Linked DNA regions of Homo sapiens. The protein of the gene in region 2 purifies or fractionates together with the protein of the main gene of each other region. This does not show direct contact. Each region holds a gene or a part of one and is shown on either strand. Other genes may lie near its edges. The genes, in order: EEPD1, NCSTN and ERLIN2.

The links.
Region 1: the proteins of NCSTN (region 2) and EEPD1 purify together in Homo sapiens (affinity purification with mass spectrometry; 2 studies listed by BioGRID and IntAct, with this or other methods). This does not show direct contact.
Region 3: the proteins of NCSTN (region 2) and ERLIN2 purify together in Homo sapiens (affinity purification with mass spectrometry; 2 studies listed by BioGRID and IntAct, with this or other methods). This does not show direct contact.

What each region holds. Positions count from the first base shown.
Region 1 is NC_000007.14:36,151,513-36,155,261, forward strand, and holds the start of EEPD1 (endonuclease/exonuclease/phosphatase family domain-containing protein 1), read left to right. Parts: upstream 1-1,741; 5' UTR 1,742-2,162; intron 2,163-2,620; 5' UTR 2,621-2,812; coding exon 2,813-3,690; intron 3,691-3,749.
Region 2 is NC_000001.11:160,353,324-160,357,072, reverse strand, and holds part of NCSTN (nicastrin isoform 1 precursor), read right to left. Parts: coding exon of another isoform or gene 3,742-3,749; exon of another isoform or gene 2,979-3,741; intron 2,956-2,978; coding exon 2,783-2,955; intron 1,419-2,782; coding exon 1,316-1,418; intron 1,211-1,315; coding exon 1,115-1,210; intron 814-1,114; coding exon 726-813; intron 474-725; coding exon 319-473; intron 33-318; coding exon 1-32. UniProt on the Homo sapiens protein: Essential subunit of the gamma-secretase complex, an endoprotease complex that catalyzes the intramembrane cleavage of integral membrane proteins such as Notch receptors and APP (amyloid-beta precursor protein).
Region 3 is NC_000008.11:37,739,501-37,743,249, reverse strand, and holds part of ERLIN2 (erlin-2), read right to left. Parts: intron 2,886-3,749; coding exon 2,804-2,885; intron 1,479-2,803; coding exon 1,432-1,478; intron 1-1,431. UniProt on the Homo sapiens protein: Component of the ERLIN1/ERLIN2 complex which mediates the endoplasmic reticulum-associated degradation (ERAD) of inositol 1,4,5-trisphosphate receptors (IP3Rs) such as ITPR1.

The DNA.
Region 1 (3,749 bases), on a different chromosome or scaffold from region 2:
CACGTTGCGCATCAAGGCATTCTGCTCAACGAAGAGTTTTCTCTGTTTTCCTGCTTGTCTTAAACTGTTTTTTCCTTACCGCACCAGGATTTCAGTGCGTGGCATAATGTAGCCCAGTGTTTGGGTGGGAGATGATGGTAGGTAGCAAGGCATTTTTGCGATCAAGTGCAAATAGCTTGCCTAAAAATAAAGCCAATAAAGAGAACCGTGGAGCCAGAGATGGAGGCAGTCCTGCCATGTCCTAATGACCCCATCATCACTTGGGTCGGATGCAACCAGACTTGAGGTAAGATTCCTTACCTTAACTTTTCAACAAGGAACCAAAAATTTCCCCCCGACCTTTTTTTTTTTTTTTTTGGTCTAAGCTAGTTTGACTTGGTTTTCTGACCAATATACATAGCAGGGGAATGTGCCTCAGAAAGGCAGTAGCATTTTCCAAACTTGGGCTGCCGCTAATTTTACAACCAAAGTACCTTCCGCCTGTGAGAGGTACTATTTTTGCTGACCCAGTCCTTGGAATTGAAACCAGATGCACTGGTCACATTGGTTGGGGATGAAACTTCAGAGAACACTAAACGTCCAGGGTCAAAGTATTCAACGATATCACCGCATGATTTGCTTAATCGAATACTCTAGCTCTAGGTATCCACTATAATGCAGAGGGCTCTTTAATCTTTAACCAAATTGTCATTTAGCAGTGTGATGCAAAAACTCTTCTGGGTTTTGGGAAGCAGCCCCCATTTCCCTCCTTCGTAATGATTAGACTTAATATTACAAAAACTTATCCTTGTTTACTCACAGCGCTAAATGTGCAAAGGAGCAAACCTGTATTTGACCTATGCGAACACACAGGAGGGTGGTGCGTGCCCTCTGCTAGGAGCACAATGCGTCGCTGGCGTTATTAGAGGACATCTCTCTGAGCGGAGCAAAGGTAATACACTGGTGGAAGAAAAGAAAAGGCCGAAAGTGGGGACAGAAATTAAGACGATCCCATTCAGTCTCCTCTGGAACGTTCTGCAAAATTCCGTGAGACCCTGGACCTACAGCGATGCACTCTCAGGGACTGCCCCGGCCTTCATCCCCACACCTCAAAGACAGACGAAAAGCAGCTGAGCAGATCTCGCCTCGGGCAATCCTAAACAGCCTCTACCAGGCACAACCAGTCCTAGGCCCCGGGCGGCAACCATGGTCCGGGGGCAGCTGACTTAGGACAGCCTCCCTGTGACCCGCCCTCGCCGGCACGGCGCCGGCTCCGCCCCTTAAGCCCCCTAAGTCCCGCCTCTGCGCTCCCGGGGCCTACCCCCGCGCTCATGGCCCCGCCCCCGCTTTTCCTACCCCATCGCGCCCTGGCCCCGCTCCCACACTCTATGACCCCGCCTCTCGCACTCCAGGCCCGCCCCACGCGCTCCAGGGTTCTGCTCTCCACCCATTTGTGCCAGGCCACGCCCCCACACCCATGGCTCCTCCTCTCGCACGCCAGGGCCTCCCCTCGCGCTCTCTGGTTCGTTCTCCACCCTCTTGAGCCTTGATGCCGCCCCCTCTTCCATGGCCCCGCCTCTCCCACTCCAGGCCCGCCCTTGCGCTCTCGGGTTCCTCTCTCCACCCACTGGTGCCAGGCCTCGCCCCGCGCCAGGGCCCCTCCCCCACGTGCCCTCGGGAGTCCCGGGGAGGAGTTGCCGCGCGGAGGAGGCGTGGCCGCGGTGCCTGCGGAGGCGCGAGCGGCGCGGCGCGGCGCGGCCGGGACTTTGGCTTTGACACCGACTGCGAGCGGGAGCCGTGCGGCTGGTGCTGGGTCTGGACTGGCTCTGGCGGATCCCCGCCCGAGTTGGGCGCAGGACTTTTTGCCGGGGTAAACGCAACTGCGGCGGCGCCGCCGCAAGCCCCGGTGCAGCCTCGGCGGCGGGTTTCGCCGCCGCTGCCGCCGCCTCCGAGCAGCCCTGCGGCTTCTATTCACTCTGGGAGAGCGATGCTAAGTTTCTCCCATAGAAAGAGCCGGGACACGCAGACCGAAGCGGCGTAGTCGGCTTCCAGGGCCTGACCAGTGACCCACACCCGCGCGGACGCCTAGGCTGGAGGCAGGGGGCCCGTGCTGTCCCGGGCTGGGCTCAGGCTTCCGAGCCGCAGGTGGAAGAGGAACCGGCGCCCCGCAGAGCGGCCGAGAGGTGGGGCGCGGGGACCCGCGGCAGGTCGGGTGGGGGGTCGATAAGCCCCTTCTCAGTGCCCGCTCCGGGGAGCACGGACTTCCCAGGTTGCAGGTAGCGCTGTGTCAGATGCGGAGCGTGGGGGAGGTGGAGTGGCCACCCCGTCTGCGCGAGCCCAAGTGTGGGTGACCCAAGTGTCAGAGTTGAGAGAGGCCTGGAGGAGAGGCATGAGGCTGATGGGGATAGGTCTCTTCCCAAGAGAAGCGGCTCGTAGCCTTTTTGGACTCCAGTGTGATAAAACCCGGACGTCCCTAGAGGAGAATCCACATGGGCCTAGCCTCATTGTGCCTGCGTTTTTAGGGGTTCACGGGCAGCCACCAGTCCCCGACTCCTGGTTACTAACTCTAGCACTAGGTAGGGGGTGCTAATGCAAATTTCTTAATTCAATGGGTTTCTATGTTTATTGATTTATTTTCTAGGCGGCCAAGTGAAAGGTAATTTTGGACACGCCAGGCATGGAAGATTCGGTGTTTGTCTATAGTAACCTCTTCAGTCCCTGAATCCTGCACCTTCCGTTTTTCTGTGCTTGTACGGCCTACTGGGCTTCCTCCCTAGCCAGAGAGCTCTTCTGCAGTGGTGCGGCCTTCCCGGGAGCCTGATCCTGGCGGACCATGGGGAGCACCCTGGGCTGCCACCGCTCCATCCCCAGGGACCCCTCGGACCTGTCCCATAGCCGCAAGTTCAGCGCAGCCTGTAACTTCAGCAACATTCTAGTGAATCAGGAGCGGCTCAACATCAACACTGCCACGGAGGAGGAGCTGATGACCCTGCCTGGGGTGACGCGTGCCGTGGCACGCAGCATCGTGGAGTACCGAGAGTATATCGGTGGCTTCAAGAAGGTGGAGGACCTGGCATTGGTCAGTGGTGTAGGCGCCACCAAGCTGGAGCAGGTCAAGTTTGAGATCTGTGTGAGCAGCAAGGGCAGCTCAGCGCAGCACTCTCCCAGTTCCCTGCGGCGGGACCTGCTAGCGGAGCAGCAGCCTCACCACCTGGCCACAGCTGTGCCCCTCACCCCACGTGTTAACATCAACACAGCCACCCCGGCCCAGCTCATGAGCGTGCGAGGCCTCTCGGAGAAAATGGCCCTCAGCATCGTGGACTTCCGCCGTGAGCATGGGCCCTTTCGCAGCGTTGAGGACCTAGTGAGGATGGATGGTATCAATGCCGCCTTCCTGGACAGGATCCGGCACCAGGTGTTTGCTGAGAGGTCCAGGCCCCCATCCACCCACACGAACGGGGGACTGACCTTCACCGCCAAGCCTCACCCGAGCCCCACTTCCCTGAGCCTGCAGAGTGAGGACCTGGACCTGCCGCCAGGGGGGCCCACCCAGATTATCTCCACTCGGCCGTCCGTGGAGGCCTTTGGAGGCACAAGGGATGGGAGGCCTGTGCTGAGGCTGGCCACCTGGAACTTGCAGGGCTGTTCCGTGGAGAAGGCCAACAACCCCGGGGTGCGAGAGGTGGTGTGCATGACACTCCTGGAAAACAGGTGAGGACAGGAACCACCATGGGTGTTGGGTGTGAAGGCAACTTGTGCGTGACCTCATC
Region 2 (3,749 bases):
AAAGGGCCCTGGACCCATGAGTACTCATACAGCTGCACAGAAGATGCGCCACAACACACGGCTAGGGTGATCCTCTTCTCACTCGTTCCCTCTACCCTCTATCAGTGCCATGCTCTAACCAATTGAGCTAACTGGCTGCTGTCCCTTTACCCTTCAGATGGTCCATTTTCACCCAGGCTTTTCAACACCCAATTGCTGAGGACTGCATCTCTCCACCTCTCCATCCCAATCCCCTGGGTCTAACTAGGTCTAGAAGAACCTCCAACTTTCCCAAGGGAAAGGGGCCCCAGGGCACTTCCAACACCCACCACCACTCACATCCTTGTTTTCACTTGGGACTTTACTTGGATCCTGGCACTGCTCTCGGGTGAGGTTGACCACTGTGCCAGTCAAATTTGCCAAGGCATACTGTACAACATAAGTGGTGTTGGTGGGGCTGGAGACAGCGATGTAATGTTGAAGAGGCCCGTCACCTGAGTGCAGACCAAAGGGAAGGGAAGATTTGGTGGGTGGATGGTGGGTGAAATAGGAAAAGCCCAAGATTGGCAGCAGCCAGAAAGAAGGGCAATGGAAAAGGATCCATCAAATATGAGAAGAAAGAAAGGAAAACAGGGGGTAAGAAAAACAGAGAGGAAAAAGAAAAAAAATAATAAAGGTTAAACCAAAAGACTTTTTCTCTATCCCTTTCCTCAGCTAAGGGTCCCATTCCCACACCAGATGCTTACCCAAGTAGGACCTTAGGTCCTGCCTGAGGATAGACTGGAACCATGAGTTGTTGGCTTTAATCAGGAACCCATAGAGCAGGCGGGTAACCTAGGATTGGAACAGTAAAGAGAGAAAACCCTGTGACTTGAAGGGAGCCCAGGGAAAGAATTATCAGTGGAGACCCAGTCATGGGGCAGGAACCAGACTGGCCAGATAGACTGGAGTTGGGAGACAGTAGCTGGCTCATAAGATGCAGATGAGGCCCACCCAAGAGCTCTCTGGGGCATGAGGCATTCTCACCGGCATCAACAGTCATGTGGAATTCCAAGGTTTGGGACACTAGGGCAAGGGAGGATAGGGACAGCTTGCTGTGTAAATAGAAAGAAGGAGCTAGGGCCCATCTGCTTACCGTTTGGGGATCAGCCTGAACTGTGTCGCTGAAGTTGGTTCCTCCTGCAAGCTCATACAGAGCACGTCCCAGCACCGTGGCCACATCTGCCAGGGCCTGTGGTAGGTGAGGAGGGGGCTGAATGGCCCACCTCTCCTATCCTCAAATGCTAGCATCTTCACTGTGTGCCCCAGGCTCCCACCCAGCCTGGCTCAGTGCTACCTTGGCAGTGTCTGTTACAAAGTTCAGGTCCTCTTCAGGGCTCAGCCATTCGGGATAGCTCACATTAATGTTCTCAGCAGTGTCGTAAATACTCTGGTAATATCTGCCAGGAAAGCCGGCATGAGCCTTGGCTACATTTAGCCAGGGCTCTGCCCCTTTCCTCCCTCAAATGCTCCTTATGCAGGGACTCAGTATCTCATTTTCAGCATCAGAAGAAAGGGGTGAGAGACAATCAGGATCCCATATTGCAGAAGGTGTGGAGAACAGGGAGGTAGGAGTGAGGGTGAGGTGGTTAGTGAAAATTAAAGACTTTCCTGACAGACAAGGTAGAAAAGCTGAATGAGCTCAGATCTTTAAACAAAGGAGAGACTCTTCTACATCATTTGGGCTGGAGATATGGGGGATGGCTAAGATGATTTTCAGAGAACTCTGCCATGTATCATGAGATCAGTTGTATAACTGTTCCAATGAACATTTATATTTAGGGTAGCTGGGAGCAGGAGGTGATTAGCAGGTCTTAGGATCAGGTCTGCTCACTGATATATAAGAATACACTGATAAAATCACCATGATGATCCTTATGGAGCCCCAAGGAGATAGATCTTAAAAGAGAGGCTGAGCTCCACAGTCTTTACCATCAGTAAATCCCTGTCCCACACAAAGTCAAGTCAGCTACATAATCAAATCCAAAATGTGTTCAAATGATGAATCTTCACTTGCCCCAAAGTGGTACAAGGATAGCTTTAGAGAAGACAGCTGACCCTAAGTGCTAGGACGGTCACTCCCCTAAATGAATGAGAAGGTGCTACTTGGCTGGGGTCAGAAATAGAGCTCAAGCATTTTCACTACGAAACTCATTTGGCCCTCGGGAAGCTTGGCAATCCAGCCTGAGTAAGAAGTCCCCTGTTATCCAAGGCCTCAAGTTAGGAGCAGTTAAAGGGTAACCCAGAGTTACCCTTTGTATCTCTGGAGCCCCATCAGCTATAGGAGGCACTTTTACCCTCGCACTGAACCATGGCCATCTACCACATGGCAAGAACATGGTACATTTCACAGAGTATGAATACTGTTTCTGGCACCTCTGGGTGAGTTCCAGAGAAGGACTGCTTTCTGTCTTCTAGCCAAAGGGCCCCCACCATCCTTCCCATGCTTGTGTTTGAGATGATGCCCTCTGCTGGCAACCCTGAGGAACTCAGGACCCTGGAGAGCTAGGGAGCAGTGGAACCATAACCAAGGATTGTTGACAGTAAAGGGCTAAGGGTGAGGATGAGTTTCTAAGATGAATATCCAGTCAAACAAATAAGGGTTTCAGTTCAGATGTGAAAACGCCACTGAGCAAAGAATACAGATGGACCTGAAGTTCTGGAGGGGGTAGTGTGGGAAAGCGGAGGGCAGTGACCTTCCTCCCAGACTGCAGAATAGACTCTCTTCAAGAATGAAGAGGGTGCAGGGCCAAGTGATTCTTACTTGTTATGGAAGGCACCAGAGTGGTCAGCCAGAACAACGCCAGAGATGTTTCGAGCTCGAAGAAATCGCTGCAGGGAAGATGGTGGGAGAGGCTGGGACTGATTTGGCCTCCTGAGGATGACAGCAGGGACACCAGCACCACTCTTCTCCAATGTGGCCAGGAGATCCTCCACCTGGGGGGTACGAGGGAGATTAACTGATGGGAGGCTGGGGGATGGGAAGCAGGAGGTCTCTTTTAGGCCTGAAATGCTCTATACTTCAAGTTCCCTGCTTGGGGAGCTACCCTATCTCTAGTAGACCTTTATCCCTCAAGCCTTTTGGGACCAAGGCTCTCTGAATTTCCTGTAGCTTCCACCATTCTTTTTAGAGTTAGAAAATTGGGGCATAAAGAAGAGACCTTTTTTTTCATATTTATAAGTAAATTCTACTGTCTTCAAGACTCTGCTTTATCCTCAGTGGATGCTTCACTTATTATTTATTGTGCAGAATTGAAGGGAGCAAATAATAATAGAAAACTGCGTGCTGAATGCCAAACAGATAACCAATTCTTTAAATGCTACAGGAGTCCAGAGCAGGGATGATGCTGAAGGCTGGAATTGCAGAAAGAGGACCACCTGGAAAAAAGCAGGCCTAAAGGTGGACCTAGAGGGAAGGGAAGGTTTTGAACAAGCAATGAGGAAAGTGGAGGACAAGTTGGGCAGCGAGTGTGACACAGCCAGGACTTGGGTAGAGCAGCCTTGACAATTGGATCCATGGGGCAGCAAGGCAAGAAGGGAGCTAGTCACTCACCTATCCTTAATGGGCAGTGGTAGTCTGCTAGGCAACAAATGATCAGAGAACTACCCAGTCCAGGGAACCAATGGAATGTCACTGAGTTCCTGATTCTTCCCAGCAGCAACAACAGCTGTGGTGTTCATCCTTTGGCCAACACCCAATCCAATCCTGTCTCTTACCCTGTCTCACAGGC
Region 3 (3,749 bases), on a different chromosome or scaffold from region 2:
ACTCATATAGTTTCTGTCGTATCTGTTATAGCTGTTAATTTTGAACCAGGTTCTAATCAATGCTCACCCTTGCTTCTGTTTATGTTTCTTGTAAGTCTCTGTCCAATCCAGCATCCCTCTAAATACAACCACTTTGTGAAGAGATCAGGCCTGCGATCTTGTGGGATGTTCCAATTCCGGATTTGTCAGAGTGTTTCTTTGTGGTATTCTTTGTCACTCTATCCCAGTTTAAACTGTCTTTGCTTTCCAGTGGGACCGCTGTAGCAGTGTTCTCTTCGGATCTCTTTGCCCTGAAGGTCTCCCCTACCTTTATGACATTCTCTTTAGTTATGCAAGTTATCTTCTTGTATCAGGTCATTTATCTGCTAAAAACCTTTGTGCATCCTCACTTCTTTTTTTGTTTTTAACGTTAAAATTTTATTTTATTTTCCATTGTTTAAATTCAGAGGTACATGTGCAGGATGTGCAGGTTTGTTACATAGGTAAACGTGTGCCATGGTGGTTTGCTGCTCAGATCATCCCATCACCCAAGTATTAAGCTCAGCATCTATTAGCTATTCTTCCTGATGCTCTCCCTCTCCCCACCCCCTATCCACTGACAGGCCCCAGTGTGTGTTGTTCCCCTCCATGTGTCCATGTGTTCTCATCATTCAGTTCCCACTTATAAGTGAGAACATGTGGTGTTTGGTTTTCTGTTCCTGCATTAGTTTGCTGAGGATAATGGCTTCCAGCTCCATCCATGTCCCGTGCAAAGGACATGATCTTGTTCCTTTTTATGGCTGCATAGTATTCCATAGTATATATGTATCACATTTTCTTTATCCTGTCTATCGTTGATGGGCATTTGGGTTGATTCCATGTCTTTGTTATTGTGACTAGTGATCCTCACTTCTTTTTTTTTTTTTTTTTAAAGACGGAGTCTCACTCTGTCGCCAGGCTGGAGTGCAATTGTGTGATCTTGGCTCACTGCAATCTCTGCCTCCCAGGTTCAAGTCATTCCCCTGCCTCAGCCTCCCGAGTAGCTGGGACTACATGCATGCACCACCACACCCAGCTAATTTTTGTATTTTAGTAGAGACGGGGTTTCACCATGTTGGCCAGGATGGTCTCGATATCCTGACCTCATGATCCACCTGCCTCAGCCTCCCAAAGTGCTGGGATTACAGGTGTGAGCCACCGCGCCCGGCCGATCCTCACTTCTAATAGAGTAAGTGCAAACTCCTTATCACATACAGCATTCTAGCCCCTCCTGAACCTTCTATGATTTCCTCTACTGCACTCCATCACCTGGTCAAATCAATATAGGGAGCTACGAGACAGGGAATTAACCAAGAAAGGGTGCCTCCCTTTTCACTGTCTCTTCCTGCAACCAGCCAGACAGCCTTTTCTCTGACTTATTTGGGCTTAAAAGCTTTATTCTGGGTACCTTACCTAGTCCCACAAGGTACATTCTTCACCTCATCTGTCTGGAGTGTGGTCTGGAAACAGAGGAAACATAAAGTGCTAGAAGATGGGCAGTGACAAAGTAACTTACTTTTCAGAATCCTAAATGCCTTTGTCCTGGAATAACTGTTTGGGTTGAGCATGGCCTTCATTAAACATGATTACCCCACCTAATCCTCCTTCCTCACAGGGTTGCTAAGCCAAGTAAAGGCCCGTGCCCCAGCCTCACTATAAGTGAACCACCACATCAACAAGCTGAGTAATAATGGTTTAGTGAAGATGACACTGGATTGGGCATCTTAAGACTTGTGCTTGCTTCTACCTCTTCTATTTATGTTAGGCACCGCTTTATGTTCGAAGGCCCCCAGTGGATGCTTGAAACCGGGGAGAGTACCAAACCCTATAACACATACCTATGATAAAGTTTAATTTATAAATTAGGTACAGTAAGTGATCAACAATAATAAAATAGAACAATTATAACAATATACTGTCATAAAAGTTATTTGAAGGTGGTCTCTCTCTCTCTCTCTCAAAATATCTTATTGTACTGTAGTCACCTGTTTTCAGACCATGGTTTATTGTGGGTAACTGAGCCTGTGGAAAGTGAAATAGTGGATAAGGGGGAGGGCTGTTGTACTAGTTTTGAAACAGCAGATTACCTATTTAACCTGTCTCAGACCCTAGCACATGCTCAGCCCATTCTCAGGATTACTACAAGACTCAAATGAGACAATGTACCTGAATGCAGTTTGAAAGCCACAAAGCCTGGTAAACAGCACATGAAACTTACAGGGAAAATGCCTAGCAGGTATCCCAAGACATTCTCCTGGGTCAGTGTAAAGTGTAAAATCTTGTTATTCTTCTTAGCTGGACATACTTCAGAGATGGCAAGTCCAACTTAGCCAGGCTTTAGATCTGCCACAACTAACCTCACTCCTATTTTAGATGTCACCTCCCCTCACTTAGTTTAACTCCTCCCCACTCACTGCAAAAATTATGTTCGTATTTCTGAATTCAAATAAGAATCAGCAAAATTACTATGTTTTCTTTCCATTTAACATGGTAGCCTGTGATTTAAAACATACACACATAAACCCTGACTTTTCTTTCCATATACTCAGAACAGGTTCTTCTCTGGCTTTATCTTGAAGGAATAATCCCCAGCCTCATTTTATATATATATAGTGTATGTGTGTATATATATATATATTATATATATATAATATGTATATATTATCCTTATATCATTCTCTAGAATGGCATTTTACTCATCCAATGGCTAAATAATTTCAAATCATGCACTAGTTAACAGCCCAAGTTTGCAGTCGTCCAGCCATACCACAGAGGCCAAGCATACCTGCACAGACTTATATGATGTGATGAAAGGGAGCATGAGATGGAAACCAGGGCCGCTGGTCGAAGTCAGCAGGGCACCGCCTCTGCAGAGGAGGGGGAAGAGAGAGGCAGCTTCAGTTTGGCAAGAAGGCTCTGTTAGATCAATATCATGAGGGTCAACTTTCCCTTCAGCCCTATAAACATATAATAGAGAGTGACATGTGCTGCAGCCATGGCTACAGATCCCTTTCTTCCTCTCAGCTAGATCCTAATATTCTAGGAAGCCTGATGGTAAAACATAAAACTATTGTTCATGCTTTTGCAAGGAGAAAAATAGGCACATAGGCTAAATGGAATAAAGACAGCAGAACCCACTAGTGCAGTCCCAGCGCTTTGCGGGGCTGAGGTGAGAGGATTGCATGAACTCAGGAGTTTGAGACCAACCTGTCTCAAATAGTGAGACCCTGTCTCTACAAAAAAAGAAAAGGAAAAAAATTAGCTGAGTGTGGTGGTTGTATGCCTATAGTCCCAGCTACTTGGGAGGCTGAGATGTAAGAATTGCTTGAGCCTGGGAGGTTGAGGATGTAGTGAGACATAATTGTGCCACTGCACTCCAGCTTGGGCAACAAAGTGAGACTCTGTCTAAAAAAAAAAAAGAAAAAGACAGCAGAATCCATGGGTATACTTAGATAAGAGAAAGTCTGGCCAGGCGCGGTGGCTCACGCCTGTGATCTTTGGGAGGCTGAGGTGAGTGGATTATTAGGTCAGGAGTTCAAGACCAGCCTGGCCAACATGGTGAAACCTCGTCTCTACTAAAAATACAAAAATTAGCCAGGCGTGGTGGCAGGCACCTGTAATCCCAGCTACTTAGGAGGCTGAGGCAGAGAATTGCTTGAACCTGGGAGGCGGAGGTTGCAGTGAACCAAGATCTCACCACTGCACTCCAGCCTGGGCAACACAGCGAGACT